Linked DNA regions of Homo sapiens: region 2 is linked to region 1. Evidence: fine-mapped expression QTL. Tissue or cell type: lymphoblastoid cells. Region 1 holds a variant in brackets; the other region holds the start of a gene. All regions are shown on one strand. Distances are from middle to middle.

What was found. PIP is the estimated chance that this variant, and not a neighbour inherited with it, causes the effect.
Region 2: PUM3 starts here. The variant in region 1 is fine-mapped to the expression of PUM3 in lymphoblastoid cells (GTEx, PIP 0.98).

Annotation. Positions count from the first base shown.
Region 1 is chr9:2,684,794-2,692,975 of GRCh38, forward strand. It overlaps LOC105375957 (a long non-coding RNA gene), which reads right to left. Exons shown (of 3, transcript XR_929436.3): 1 at 1-8,182. Among named protein-coding and RNA genes, the nearest start is that of KCNV2, 29 kb to the right of the region's middle. The variant C/T (reference allele first, on the strand shown) is at 3,831.
Region 2 is chr9:2,840,387-2,848,568 of GRCh38, forward strand. PUM3 (pumilio RNA binding family member 3) reads right to left here and starts at 3,709. Exons shown (of 18, transcript NM_014878.5): 1 at 3,659-3,709. RefSeq lists enhancers at 2,738-3,299, 3,683-3,977, 3,801-4,040.

The DNA of each region.
Region 1 (8,182 bases):
TTGAGGCCAGGAGATGGAGACCAGCCTGGCCAACATGGCAAAACCTTTTCTCTACTAAAATATGAAAAAATTACCCAGGTGTGGTGGCATGTGCCTGTAGTCCCAGCTACTAGGGAGGCCGAGGCAGGGGAATCACTTGAACCCGGGAGCCAGAGGTTGCAGTGAGCTGAGATCGCGCCACTGCACTCCAGCTTGGTGACAGAGCAAGGCTCGGTCTAAAACAAAAAAAAAAAAATTAGCTGGGTGTGGTGGCATGCACCTGTGGTTCCAGCTACTTGAGAGGCTAAGGTGTAAGGATCGCTTGAGCCCTGGATGTGGAGGCTGCAGTGAACTGAGACTGCACAACTGCACTCCAACCTGGGCAACAGTGGAAAACTCTGTCTCAAAAAAGAAAGAGATTTTTTTAAAAAAGAGAAAACAACAACAAAAAAGAAACAGCCTTAATTCTCCTCAATGTATCATGACACATGCCTGAACATCACATGACCAATAAAACAAAAGAAGTAATTCTATGAACCCACGTGGAATGATCACCAAGAAACCTTAATAGAAAAAGCTCAGTGCAGGACAATACATATGACATGGAGCCTGTTTGCAGACAAATTAACAAAGAAACAGAAGAAAAATATAGTATATCTACATGTGCTTGAATATGCAGGGAATGCCTGTAGAACAGCAGTCAGCAAACTGGCCCAAAGGCCAACACCAGCCCACTACCTGTTTTTTTATTTTTAAAATATTTTTAATGGTTGAAAAAAATAAATAGAAGAATAAATTCAAAAGATGAATATAATGGCATGAAATATATGAAATTCAAATGTCAATGTCCATGAAACTTTCCTGGAACACAGACACACTCTTTTTTTTTTTTTTTTAGTGGCAAGTGCCACTCTGCCCTGCTAATTTTTATATTCTTAGTAGAGACAGGGTTTCACCATGTTGGTACAGGCGCCAGCCACCATGTCCGGCCGACACACTCTTCATACTATCCACAAAATAATGGTAGAATTGAATAGTTGTGATGAAAACTTCATGACCCACTAAGGGTAAAACATTTATTACCTGGGGCTTTACAGAAAAAGTTTGTCCACCCCCGGTCGAAAGGAATTTATAGCAACTAACAGCTATAGTTTCCTCTGGGGAAGGGCACTGGCATTTAAAAACAAGAGCAGGAAGAAGACTTAGGTTTTACTTTCTACCCTTTTGTGTGTGTGTGTGTGTGTGTGTGTGTGCGTGTATACATATATGTGCGTATATATACATATATACGCACATATATATACACACATATACATATATATATATATTTTTTTTTTTTTTTTTTTTTTGAGACAGAGTCTCCCTTTGTCTCCCAGGAGTGCAGTGGCGCGATCTTGGCTCACTGCAACCTCTGCTTCCTGGGTTCAAGCGATTCTCCCTTCAGCCTTCCAAGTAGCTGGGATTACAGGTGCACACTGCCAGGCATGGCTAATTTTTGTAATTTTAGTGGAGATGGGTTTTCACCATGTTGTTCACGCTGGTCTCTAACTGCTGACCCCAAGTGATCTGCCCACCTCGGCCTCCCAAAGTGCTAGGATTACAGGTGTGAGCCACCACACCCGGCCTGCATCTTGAAATTAATATGAACATACTTAAAAAGAAAATATAATGAGAAAAATAAAAGAAATACGATTCATACCAAGTATCTGAAAAAACCTTAATGAGAAAAGTGTGTGACTTTATACATAAAAAATAATGAAACTTATAATAAAGAAGGCTTGAATTAATATAGAGCCATATCTTCCATGAGTAAATATTTGAAAGATGCTAATTTACCTCCTTCCCCCACCCCAAGAAAAATTCACAGAATGATTTCTTCTAAAGTTATAGGAAAGAATAACTGAGCTGAAATATTTAAAATAATTCTAGAAAGCATGGCAGCAGGAGAATCTAGAAAGATAGTGCATTGGTGTCTCCTGCCTTTCCTAGACACACAGCTCCTCCTCAGCTTTCTCTCACTCCCCTCAGCCTAGCATCCACTCAGGCAGTGAATTGGCAAAACTGCACACACACGTTACACACATTGCACACCAGTGTGGTGTGTCCACCCTCTGGGCCAAGTGGGAGCCTGGGAGGCAGAGGCAGCAGAAGGTAGTTCCAAAGCAAGGATCTGAAGCAGCCAGCTCCTGGGAATAGCTTGATCTCCTGAGATCGCTGAACCTCTGTAGGGAAAGTTGACAAAGTTGACATTGGCCAGTCTCGCCAGGCCCAGAGAAGCTCATGAGGAGCTGTGAGGGTGGACGGAGAGCTCCCCCTGAGGCTGGGAAAGCCACGGAGAACCTCCCTCCTCCTCCACCCTTCCTCATGCCATGATAGGGAGTTGATGACTTCTCACTGCAGCCCAGCCAGTTCTCAGGGTCAGATCACCACACCTTCTGTTTCTCAGACAATCTCACCCCACCCTCAATCCCAGTTAAGGTATCCTAGCCACTGAACTCCAATGATCAGCAAAGAAAAATAACCAGATGCTAAGGGGGCTCAACAATCAGAGACAGGAAAAATAAACAAGGATTAGCTGGTCCCTCATGAAATAAAACTGACTGGAACAGGCAGAGGGCAATGTACTAAAAAAAAAAAAAAAAAAATGAAAAAGTAAATGATAAAAAGAGTATTTAAAGGGATTCAAATTCAGCACATAACAAAAGACTTCTTAGAAAACATGCATTCATTTTTTTTTAAGTCACTAGATGAATTTAAGGAAACGATGATCACTGATGATATTCAAATTCAATGGCCTGGAAGATCAAAAGGATAAAATAAGTATATCCTCAAGGAAAAAAATACAAAGGTCTAGTAATCTTGAGGAAAAACATAAGCAGACCCAGGAAACCAGCACGAGAAGAAAAAGAAAAGAAAAAAGTGAAGAGATGGAGAAGAAGCAGAAGTTAAAAAAAACCTTCCCTTAAAAAAAAAAACTGAGTTTTTAAATTGAAAATGCCTAATAAACTTCAGGCACTATTATAGAAAGAAGGGAGACATTTATCCATATTTTGGCAAAACTCCCAAACTTCAAGCATGAAGAGAAAACCTTGAAAAGTTCTGGGTTGAAAAGACCCAGAAATTATCTTTTTTAAAGAAAAAGATAATTCTATAAACTTGGAAAATCTTCATTCTAATGCTAGTAAAACAGAAATAAAAGAAAATAATTACATATTTCTATCAGAAATATAAGTAAGAAAATGGTAAATTTATGTGAAATTTTATGCAGCCAATATAAACAGTCATTAAAATGATTCCATAGTTACATGGAAAAGCACAGATGTAAGGAAAAACAACACATTATAAAGTAAAATAGCAAATTATAGAATGTTATGCAGTATAATTAAAACTATTTTTAAATGTTCATGAAAAAGATAGAATAAACAAAGATTACAGTAGTTGGGTTAGAGTCGTTAGAGGAATAAGCAAGATAACTATAGTTGGGTTAGTGTTGCTAATGGAATTACAGGTTTTATTCCCTGTTTCATACTTTCTATAATGTAATATTTTAGTAATAATTTTTTGAGTTAATAGTTTATATAAAGTTCGGCTTTTGTAAACAAAAAAGGAGTTACATTTTTAATAAGTAACACGAAGAAGTCACAGCTATAATCTGTAAACGCTAAAGGGAAGTTCATACATAGCACATGCCCTGCAGCTAAGCCAGATGATCCAAGGCTCCAGGATCTATATGCCAAGAGCAAAATCAAAGTTTAAGCTTGATATTGCTTGGGGGAGGGGTTTGCCCTAAGACTTAGATGATTAAATTATTTATTAGAAGAAATAAGAGAGGTCTCAATTTCCTTATTTGC[C/T]TGTATGTTTACACCGATTCAAACCAAAGTTTTAGGGTAAAATCTTGTCTCTCTGAAGGCATTTCCTTCGTTTCATCCATACTTACTCATTAGGCTCCTCAGTCTATAGAGTGGGAGAAAGAAACACAGCCCCTGATAGTTGGGAGCTGGCTGGCACTAGCAGTTAGGTCTTGGTATTGCTACTATGGAAAACAATGCTAGACAAGGCCGTTCTATCACTGAGATAAAGTGAGACAGAAATACATTCACCCCATAGTCATGTCTGAGCACAGACAAAAATAAGGCCACTGTGAAAACTACCAAAATATTTCTCTCAGCTTATGAGAGAGACTATAGCTTCTTAATAATCACAGCTTTAATCACACTTTATTCTTCCTGCCTTCTTGATAAAAATTCAGATACCCAGTCAGAATTGGCCCAATTCCTGACAGCACCGTATCCAGAGCAAACTCATGTTTCCTTGAACTCTCTCCAAAATCATCTACCACCACCTCAGATCCCATCATGTAAACCTCTCACACCTTCTCTCTGTGCCTTCCACCTATGTGTCCCCTTGACATGCAGCCTCCCTCAGTGCAACAGGCCAAGAAAAACCCAACTCAGTTTGACTTCAGGTGCATCCCTGGTGGTCTTTGGCTTTAGAGCACTGTCAAATGGAATCGTATCTTTATTCCTGGTTCTTTTTTTTTTTTTTCTTTTGAGACAGAGTTTCACTCTTTCGCCCAGGCTGGAGTGCAATGGTATGATCTCAGCTCACCACAACCTCCACCCCCCAGGTTCAAGTGGTTCTCCTGCTTCAGCCTCCCAAGTAGCTGGGATTACAGGCATGAACCACCATGCCTAGCTAATTTTTGTATTATTAGTAGAGACAGGGTTTTGCCATGTTGGTCAGGCTGGTCTTGAACTCCTGACCTCAGGGGATCCACCCGCCTCGGCCTCCCAAAGTGCTGGGATTACATGCATGAGCCACCATGGCTGGCCTATTCCTGGCTTTTGTCGCCTTTAACACAAGCAATCAAAACTTACTTGGCAAGCCAGAATTCTATTTGTAGGCTTTTGCCATTGCTAAATTCATTGCTCATTGTTATCCAGTACTGATCGATGCTCATTTAAAAGAAGCAATATGATGAACTGCCTGCAGCATACGTAATCCCTTTCTTCCTCTAAGACCTTGAAAATCTAAGGCCTTGGATTAACTGAGGACTTACTGTAGCCTAACTGAATTAAACTTTGGTATAATGCTGTGACAGCATTCAAAAAACCTCATCACTTGGCCACTGTGAAGATGCTGAAAATGCCATTCTTACATAAAGCAGTTTTAGAACTCTCAGGAGAAATATACTTCTTTCGATAATATCAGGAACAGTTTTACTTCTGAGCAATCAGTTTGTTTCCATTTTATATACAGTGTGAATTGTGTAACTGTAAAGTTTCCATTTTTAAGTTGGTTTCTTGAAAAGTGAGCCAAATCTGTAGCAAGATGAGCGTGCTCTCCGATGTTTGCTTCATTCCTGGCTCCCTTTAATTTATCTCTGACCTTGTTTTCCTTTTTCACCATTGCCAAATGTATGTTATCTTGCTTCATTTTATGTACCTGTGTAAGCCTAAATATACCTTTTAAAAAAAATTGGAAAGGCTGTGAAGAAAGACAATTCAAGCCTGAAATGGTGTCATACCAATTACAAAGCAGGGTACCTGTCTAGCAGAAGGTGAGAACAGTGGAGGAGCAATTGAAATCTGGGCTTTGGGGGCTGGGTGGAGAAGGGACCACATCAGGACACTGGAGGAGTGGAACTTAGCAATGTATACGGGAGGTGCAGTGAGCAAGACAGGAAGGAACCTTGTCTGATGGTCCTGTAAAGTTCATGCCAGAGAGATAAGCCTTGGAATGCAGAAGAGGAGAGGAAGATTGGAGAGAACCTAGAAAACAAGGAGCAGGAGTCTAGGCTTGATGTAGATCACATCTGTCCTTTCTGTGTGTCTAACAAACACAATTGCCTATGTCCCCACATTCAGGAGTCAGCAATGCAGGCGGCAGAAAGGATACCGTATTAGTATAATACGGGGCTGTTATAACCAAGTACCACAGACTGAGTGGCTTACACAGCAGAAATGTATTTCTTCACAGTTCTGCAGGCTAGAAATCCAGAATCAAGGTATCAGCAGAGTTTATTTCTTTTCAGGTCTCTCTCCTTTGTTTGTAGATTGCCACCTTCTCCCTATGTTTTCATATGTTCTTCCTTCTCTGTGTGTCTGTATCCTAATCTCTTCTTATAAGGATACCAGTCATAGATTGGATTTGGGTTCACCCAAATGACCTCATTTACCTTAATGACTTCTTTAAAGACTATCTCTCCAAATATAGCCACATTCTGAGGGATTAGGGATTACGACTTCAGCACATGAATTTTGAAGGTACACAGTTCATCCCATGACAGGGACCTGTAGTAGTTTCTGGAGAGGGCACAAAGCAGATGGCAGCTAATATCCAACGAGAGTCCACATGGAAAATGCAATTTGTTTCTGTGAGATGCAGCACCTCCTGATGGAAGGAAGTTGGGAAAAATGAGCATTTTGAAGACGCACTTTCCACTTACCTTGGCACCTGAAAATCAACTAGGGCTCATCTTTTCCAAATACCTCTAATCAACGGCAGCAAGGGAGAAGGGTGAACTTTGGGCATAATGAAGATGACAAAAGAATTTTACTGACAATGACTATGATGAAAACTGTGAACAATTTATGATTTTATCCTCAGTACAATGAGTGATAAAGGACAGGCACACAGTGACTCACAATAGCTATGTAATTCCATCATCACTAAGGCAGAGGTAAGAACACACACAGTGGGACTGGGAATAGTCTTCTGACCTTACCTTCACTCTCTTCCATAGGAGCCACATTTTCTGGCTGACATGTCCAAATCTCTCCTCTCTGTTCTAGTTACTTAACAGAAGAAGTTCATAGACTTTGCTAACATACCATCTCAATATCTTTAACTGGGAATGCATCAGTTGAATTCTGTAAAAGCAGGCTTTGCTTACTCTCAATATTCCCTGTTTAAAAAAAAAAGTTGCTGGCTGCTTCTGACATGTTCCCAGTTAAACTCATGCTATCCTGTATGCCGCTGAGCCTCTCTTCCTCTCTAACCTGTTTCAGATTGGTTTCAGCAGCTGTATGTGCTTCATAGAAACAGAATTCTCTCCAAGGAAAAAAAACATCATTTCCAGTAAAATCACCAAACTCCAGCCTGCTATGTGAATGGAAGGAAATGTTACATTCTTTATAACAGGATGAATTACTTCCTGTTGTAAGTCCAGTGAAAAACGAATCATTGGTTAGGAAGAAACATAGGGCCCATGACATTTTCAGTGCTACCTATTATCTTCTTTCCAATAATAACTCCTGATGTTATAGTCACTTCAACATTGAGTTTGCTATATTATCAAGTAAATTCCCCTCTTGCCTTTACTGCAATCCTTTCAAGTTGACTTTTGCTTTTCTGTGCTACCCCATCCATGCAATGTTTCATGATTGGCTGCTATCCCTGAAGGTTATACTCATTCCAAGTTCAGTTGACTGAGGTTGCCCCAATTATTATTCTAAATGGATCTCTTTTTTTCATAAGATAAAAACATTATTTGAATAAAAGTGGATGTCAGATCCAATTTGAGAAGGCTTAAGCTTGAGAAGGAGAAAATAATTGGAAACTATTGAGTAAAAGGTTGAAAGTAAGAAAATTCTGGTTGTTGCATTCAAGGCAGATGAGTTTAGGAAAGGACTGAGGAGAGGAGGATGGGTTGGGAGGCATTCAGGGCAACCCAATCCTGAGGTGACACTTCAAGGGCTTGAATTCCCCAAAGCTATGAGAAATGAAGGACCCTAGAAACAAGGAATCTTAGAGAGTGGCCACAGTAAAAGGAGAAAAGAAAATAGGTCAGCCAAAAGGACAAGACAAGCGCCACTGGGAAAGACGGCATCACCAAAGTTTTGAGGCACAAAACTTTTAAGACCTTATAGTCCAAACTGCTTTAATGTGATTTAATTTCGTTTATTTATTTTTGAGATGGAGTCTCACTCTATCACTCAGGCTGCAGTGCAGTGGTGCAATCTCAGCTCACTGCAACCTCTGCCTCCCAGGTACAAGCGATTCTCCTGCCTCAGCCTCCCAAGTAGCTGGGATTACAAGTGTGACTCATCACTCCCAGCTAATTTTTGTATTTTTAGTAGACATGGGGTTTCACCATGTTGGCCAGGCTGGCCTCAAACTCCTGACCTCAAGTGATTTGCCCTCCTCAGCCTCCTAAAGTGCTGGGATTACAGGCATGAGCCACCACACCTAGCCCCAAACT
Region 2 (8,182 bases), 160 kb after region 1:
AACATTTTAGACAAGATGTTTGGAGAATATGTAGACATCCTATGTCCTCCTAAGTTTTACCTGCTAACTTTAGCATTTGTCGGTGGATATCGCCTGCAGCAATTACTGCATTTAAATGGTGATCTTCTATTTCTCTTATTACTTTTGCCTTTGTTATTCTCAACTTTTCTGTAGGGAAGACTTGTCCCATCTTTTCCATCTATTTACTTGTATCATATAGTCTCAGATATTTATTTCATTCCTTGGTTATAATCCAATACCACTGTTATTTTGTTGCTCAAATAATGCTAGCTCCAGCCAGGGGGAAGTTTCTCAGGTTGCTTCTGTGTCCTTTTGACGCGGCCCAACTGTTTTGTTTTGCTTTTAAAGCACATCCTTATTTCCTGGCACTGGCTCCAGGTTCCTTCTGTATTTTCCTTAACCTAGCCCTGAAATCAGCCACTTCTCCAAGGAATCCTGGTTCCTTTCATTGAGAATGGTATTTAAAAACCAAGATCTGAGTGCTAGGCGCACTTGTTGTCACTGAGGTGTCCCTGTTTCTATGTCCTTTCGGCAGACAGATTCAGGAAACACATATATGTATATTAACTTATGCATATGCACATACCTATATTTATTTTTATATCTATTACAATAACTTGAAGCTCATACTGATGTTTCCAAATCTAATCAAGCACCACATATTTTCCTCCAGGCATCTCCTCTTGCTCATTTGTAACTTCCTTCTCTGACAGTGAGCAACCTGCTTCCCACCATCTACAATTTATTTATACACATATTCCACCCTACTATACATGCATAGTTTCAGAATTGCTAACCTGTACCCCGTGAGAAATAAATTTACAATGACAGTACAGTGTTGACGTACAATTCTTTTTTGTATCCATTCAAAATACTTTTCCAAAGTTACTTAGAGGCTTGCATGGTGGCTCACACCTGTAATCCCAGCACTTTGGGAGGCTGAGGCAGGTGGATTACCTGAGGTCAGGAGTTCAAGACCAAACCCCATCTCTACTAAAAATACAAAATTTAGCTGGGCATGGTGGTGTTGCAAACATGTAATCCCAGCTACTCAGGGGGCTGAGGCAGGAAAATCACCTGAACCCAGGAGGCAGAGGCTGCAGCGAGCTGAGATTGTGCCACTACACTCCAGCCTGGGCAACAGAGTGAGACTCTATTTCAAATGTTAAACTACCATAGCAATTAATAAACATTTCAGACAAGATGTTTGGAGAATATATGGACATCCTACCTCCTCTTAAGTTTTACTTGCTAACTTTAGCATTCAAGTCAGTGTATTCTGCCTGCAGCAATTACTGCTGCAGGCCAAAAAAAAAAAAAAAAGGTTCTTAGATCAGCCCTTCGGCCCCTCACCCTCTTTAGTGAAGTTACATGTTTATAATATAGTTTAACTGATTTGTCACAGCCTGCATTCCATCCCCAGAAATGCTGGCAGATTTATTAAATGTGCATATAGTCAAGTTTACTCTTTCTGGTGTATAATTCCACGGGCTTCAACAAATGGCTAAGACTCATGCATCCACTACCACAGTATCTTACAGAAAAGTCCTGTCACTCTAAAAAGTCCCCTGGTACAGCTCCTTTGTATTCAACTCCTTCCCTCTTTCCTGACTGCCAATGATTAGGTTTTCACTCCTGTTTTGTCTTTTCCAGAATGGCATTCTTATACATGGAATCATACAATATGTAACTTTTTGAGTCTTGCTTTTTGCACTGGGCAAAATGCAATTTGCTTTGCTTGGGAACCCTGTACCTTCGTAATGAATCATCACATTCAATAGTGTCTCTTGGAATTCGCCCCCCTTTTTCCTTTCCCTCTATTACCCCATTCAGGCTCCTGTTACCTCTTGCTCAGTTTTGTTTAGATCCTATCTGCTTTGATCCACTTTCCGCTGCCTGATTAACCTTCCAGTAGCACACCTATTTCATGTCATTTCCATGCTCCAATAGCTTCAAAGCTTTCCCACTGCCTTCAGGAAAAAGTTCCAACTCAGGCATTCACAGCCATTCAAAATGTGGTCTTAATTCACCCCACTCATCACCACCACACAGGAGCCACTATTCTTATCAGAATAGTGAAGTTTAAAGCCATTCTCTCTACCAACACAATTTCTACCCATCCTTCAAATTCAGTTTAAATGACATTTTCTTATAGACCAACCTCTACATGTTAGCATTCCTCAAATCTTTGCCCTAGGGAACTTCCCTTCTCTCTCCACACTTCTCCCTAGGTGGTCTCATCCAATCTCCTGGCTTTTTATGCTGAGTACTCCCAAATCATGTCTCCATTATGAACTTCTCCTTGGGGTCCAAACTTGTGTATAACTGCTTATCTGATACCTCTAATTATGTGTCTAACAGGAACCTTACCCTTAATATGTCCAAAACATAATTCTCTATGTTGTTCTTTATGTTATTGTTGTTTGCCCCACAAACAACAATATACTATTTTTCCCTGCCCTATCGTCCTCCATCTCAGCCAATGGCACATCATCTACTTTACTGCTCAAGTAAGAAATCTGAGTTACCCTTGACATTTTCCTCTCTACTCTGCCACGCTGAACCATAAGTTAGTTCTCTTAAATGTCCCTTACGTCACCACCCTAATGCAAACTATTACCAATACAATCTCTTGAGCTTCCAAATGTAATACATTTTCTAAAGAGAACCAGGGCCTATTCATGATTCTCACTTGCTTACAAGTCTTCAATGTTTTCTACACATGGTAATAGGAACGGAAATGTTTTCCTATTGTACAGAAAAAAAAATTCCCCATCATGACCTTCAAGGCCCTACAGAACCTAGTTCCACTCTATCCGGCTAACTTTATCTTGTACTCTAACTATACTCCTTCCTAGCTCCCATCTCAGGAACTTAGCCCATTATCGCCTCTGCTTGAAGTACTCCCTGAGCTTCCAAATCTCCGTTTAAAGATCACTTCTTCAGACTCCACTATCTGCCAACTCAGCATCCAGTTCGTTTCCTCCCAGCACTTAGAATCTGCGTACATTCAGGCAAACCGCCTAGCACTGGAGTTGGGGTTTGTGAAGTAGCACAGACAGGCTGATCAGGCCGAGCACGGGCTGGGATTCCGGAGTGAAGCTAGTCCACTCTAACCCGGCACGCAGGGCAACGTGGTGGGAGAGAGGTCGGAGTCCCGCCCTTCTTTTTTTTTTTTTTTTTTTTTTTGAGACGGAGTCTTGCTCTGTCTCCCAGGCTGGAGTGTAGTGGCACGATCTTGGCTCACTGCAAGCTCCGCCTCCCGGGTTCACGCCATTCTCCTGCCTCAGCCTCCCAAGTAGCTGGGACCACAGGCGCCCGCCACCATGCCCGGCTAATTTTTTGTAGTTTTAGTAGAGACGGGGTTTCACCGTGTTAGCCAGGATGGTCTCGATCTCCTGACCTTGTGATCCGCCCGCCTCGGCCTCCCAAAGTGCTGGGATTACAGGCGTGAGCCACCGCGCCCGGCCAGTCCCGCCCTTCTTGCCAGGCTCCAGTCAGTCCCAAACTCCTAGCCCAGAAAGAGGCCAGAGGAGACTGCCCAGTGGACAACAGCCCCGAGAGACCTTCCCGACTTCCAGCGCCCGGCAGGGTGCGAACCCCTCCCAAGAGCGACCGCTGAGCCTGCCACACTCACCGCACACGTGGGACCGAGACAGCTCGCGCAGCGGATCCCGACCGCCTCTCCGCTTCCGCTTCCTTGCCTTGCTCCGCCCCCGGGCCGCTTTTTTTCATCTTCCGCGGCGGATCAGGGACTAAGAGGTGGAGCTTCCCAGAGAATACAAAAATTCGGAATTTCTATTGGTCCGCTGCTGTTATGCCTCCTCTTGAGGCGCGAGGATTTTGGCCCTTGCAAGAATCCGTCGGGCGGAGGACGCGACAACGGCCACGGGAAATGACGTCATTAACCCTGTGGCTTCCGTGCTGGAAAGAGAGGGAGAGCTCTTGCGAGGCAGAACAGGCTGCTGAAGGACAGACCTGGCTGGCGCGGTTAATAAGAGGCCTGCATCCCGTAGCCTGAACAAATATTGAAGTAGCTAAAGTTTCTAAAGTGTGTTAATTTGCATACTTCCTCAGCAGTCCAGCGTGGAGGATAAAAGGGGTATCTTGTGAGTCGATTTGAATTGTAATCCCGTTTTTTTCACTTGCTAGCTGTGTGGCTCTGGGAAAATTACAGTTTTTATGAGCTTTGGCTTCCTGATCAATAAAATAGAAATAATTAAGTGATACGTGCAAAGCGCTTAGCATGGAACGCTCTCAATAAATGTTTGCCATTTTTAGTGTCTGCTCGTGCCTGGAAACTGCTGTTATTCCATTTTATACTTCAGGAAATAAGATTGTGGTTAGGATATATGCCCCATTTTCCAGATGAAGAAACTGACACCACAAACTTGCTCGTGTCAAGCAACAGAATTTTATTCTTTAACTGTTCTAGAGGCAAGAATTCCAAAATCAAGCTGTTGGCAGAGCCCTGCACCTTTTGAAGGCTCTAGGGGAGAATGCTTTGCTTCTTCAGCTTCTAACGGTTCCAGGCGGTCCGTGGCCTCTTGTTGCATGACTCCAATCTCGGCCTGTCTTCTAATGGCCTTCTCCTGTGCCTGTGCCACTTCTCTGTGTGTTTTTAGGACACTGAACATTGAATTTAGAGTCCACGGGGATAATCCAAGATCATCTCATCTGGAGGTCCTTAATCACATCTGCAAAGGCCCTTTTCCCAAATAAGGTCACTTTCACATGTCCTGGGAGTTAGGACATAGACATATCTTTTGGAGACTATTCAACCCACTGCATCTGTAAAGTTGAGGAACTGGCACTTGATCCCTGGTGCCAGACTTCAGATTTTACTGTCTTCCAACTTACTCCGTTTTCTGGCCACTAAGGAGTTAGAGTTGAAACTGGTAATTTAGTAGACTGTATGCTTCTTGATGACAGGGGCCATCATTACTTTCCAGGCACTTATCTCACTATGCAGCACATAGATACTTGATAAGTTCTTGTCGTCTACCTTAACTGTTACTAGTTTACATTTCAGCTCATTTAAATCTCATAAGAACGTTTTAAATAGGTCTTTTCTCATTTTACAGAGAAAGGCAAAACATAGTAGCTTTGGTCCAGTGAGCCTGACTCTAAACTCAACGTGGCTGCCTCCGTACTGCTTTCAATAATTCAGTAAATGCTAAGAGAAGAGAATATGGAACAGGAATTGCAGGAGGCCCATCAGCTGTGCCTTTTGGGCAAATAGCATAGTAGTGGGGATATTAGACACCTTGAAACACCTGACAAGTAAATGCTGGCCAAAAAGAAAGAAAAATCGCAAAATACACCCTATCACACAACCCTGGGAAGGGATACGTTTGTGTTTTCAACTCGACAGACAGCAGCACCCCATATCCTTGAAGATAGGTCCATGCAGTTGCCTTAAGCATCTGCACCAAAACCCTGCTATTCATTTGCCTTTTCACCAGGGAGGAAAAAAAAAATGTTATCACATATCAAAGCCCTTGATTATTATTAAAAACTTTTTTATCAAGTCTTCTGTGAAAGTGGATTGATTTGGATTTTTTTTTTTTTTTTGGAGTGAATTGAAAGCATCGTGTGGTTTTGCAGAACAGCACAAAAAAAGCTTATCCTGTAATTTTTTTTTTTGTCAAGCAAACCCATTAATTCTTCAAATATCTAATGATCTAAATGTAGACCACTAGGTGTACTCCTACAAGCCTAAGATGCTCTTCTTGCGTGATACACAATTTAATCAGAGCAACTAGACTTGCACACATCCAAGAGGTTAATAACAGTACTATAGCAATGCAATGACGAGCATTGAGATTAGAATCAAAGGAACCTGGCTTACAATCTAAATTCTGTATGGCCAAGGACAAGATAGCCAACTTGTATGGGCCTCAGTTTCTGCATATGTAAAATGGGAATAACAACACTTGTTTCTGGAGTTGCTGTGAGGCTTAAAAGTGATAATATCTTAAAGTTCTTAGCCAGTAGTAAATGTTGAGTGATTTGTAGCTTAAGAGAGAACCAAGGTGTACCCATTTGAAATACTTTGGGGCCGGGCGCTGTGGCTCACACCTGTAATCCCAGCAGTTTGGGAGGCCAAGGCAGGTGGATCACCTGAGGCCAGGAATTCGAGGCCAGCCTGGCTAACATGGCCAAACCCCATCTCTACAAAAATACAAAAATTAGCCAGGTGTGGTGGTGCATGCCTGTACTCCCTGCTACTCTGGAGGCTGAAGCATGGAGAATCGCTTGAACTGGAGAGGCGGAGGTGCAGTGAGTGGAGATTGTGCCACTGTACTCCAGCCTGGGCAACAGAGTGAGACTCTGCCTCAAAAAAAAAAAAGAAAAAAAGAAATACGTTTGACTTCACATAACGGAAAGTTCAGCTAATGGTGGCTTAAGCAATCATTTTCTTAACATAAAAATTTGGAAGGTACTTGGTTGTTGTGGTTCAATGACACAACAATGTCATCAAAGACCCACGCTCTTCCAGTCTCTGTTCTACCACCATCCTCAACGTTGACTTTTTATTGTCCCATTTACTGCTTTTTGATTGCAAGATGAACTCCTCAGTTTCCATATTTATCTAAGAGTTCAGGGCTAGTGAAAGTGCAGAAAGAAATGAAATCCACTATTTCCTCCCAGTGGGGCTCCGTCCTTTTATCCCAGAAGGAAAAGACCCAACAGGAGTCTCCCTTCTATTTCAGTGCCAAGAACTGGATTACACGGCCACCCCAGAATTGAAAGACCATCAGATACAATGTTAACCAGGCATTTGGATTTCATTCTTTTTCTAGTACTCTGGTAAAATTAAAGATCACTTAGCAAATATGCTTTTATCCAGCAGTAGAGATTTAATTTGTGACTTAAGCTAATCTGGTTTAAAACTTAAAATAACTATAGTATCCCAGGTGGTGGATAGCAATCTGGGCAGCGCATTGAATCACCTGTGGAGTTTTTGTTTTTGTTTCTTTAAGTAGCAGTAGTTCTGATTTAATTGGTCTGGAATGGGACCTGAGCATTGAGAATTTGATGCCTAGATCATGCTAACATGCAGCTAAGGTTAAGACCCAGTTATTTAAGGAATGGGGTTCAAGTTTTGTTTGTCTGTTTGAGACAGAGTCTTGTTCTGTCACCCAGGCTGGAGTGCAGCGGTACGATCTCAGCTTACTGCAACCTCTGCCTCCCGGGTTCAGGCAGTTCTCCTGCCTCAGCCTCCCAAGTAGCTGGGACTACAGGCGTGCGCCACCAGGCCCGGCTAATTTTTGTATTTTTAGTAGAGACGGTGTTGGCCAGGATGGTCTTGGACTCCTGACCTCAGGTGATCCACCTGCCTTGGCCTCCCAAAGTGCTGGGATTACAGGTGTGAGCCACTGCCCCGGGCCTGTTGATTTGATATTTTAGTTAACTAGGGGTTAAATCTCCTGGTTCCTCTTTGTATTGCAGGCACCAGAATTTAAGAATTAAATATACAATATGCTTCTCTCTGTAAGTAGAACATTGGAGAGAATTGTATCTTTCTTGCTGACTGAGTTCTCCTAAAGTGATTTAATACCATTAGATGTTAAAAAATGGTTTAAATTTGAACTATACACTTTCAAACATACTCTGGAAAATGTTTGCTTCTTTTTTCAATTTCACATAATTTTGTGTAATTTTCTTTTTTCCATAAAAATAAAATAGGTTAGGTGTCAGCTCCCATACATCTTCCCCTTCCCAAAATCAGTTCTCTGGAGTTCTAATTAGTGGATTTTTAACGAATTACGTTGTTTTTCTGTTTCTCAAATGCATAAGCAGAGATAGAGGGCATGTTACTGATATAAAGCATAAGTGATATTTTGGCAAGGATTGGGCTTTATTTTCAGGACCTATTAGAATCATAAATCCATGGAAACGGAGCAGTTGCCAACACATTTTTATTTAGTGAAAAAGAACTGCTTCTGAATAGTGTGCATTATGTTTTCCAATATCGTACATTTGCTACAAAGTGCACTAATGTAGTCTAAACATTAATTGAACATTCATAATGCTGTAGTTGCTGTCTAGTAAACACAGTATTAACCTTGTCCTATTTTGCTTTCTTTGATGACAAACTTTGGAGCAGCAGAAAATTACATGGCTAAGATGTAAGTTTATCTGATTGTAGTAGTCT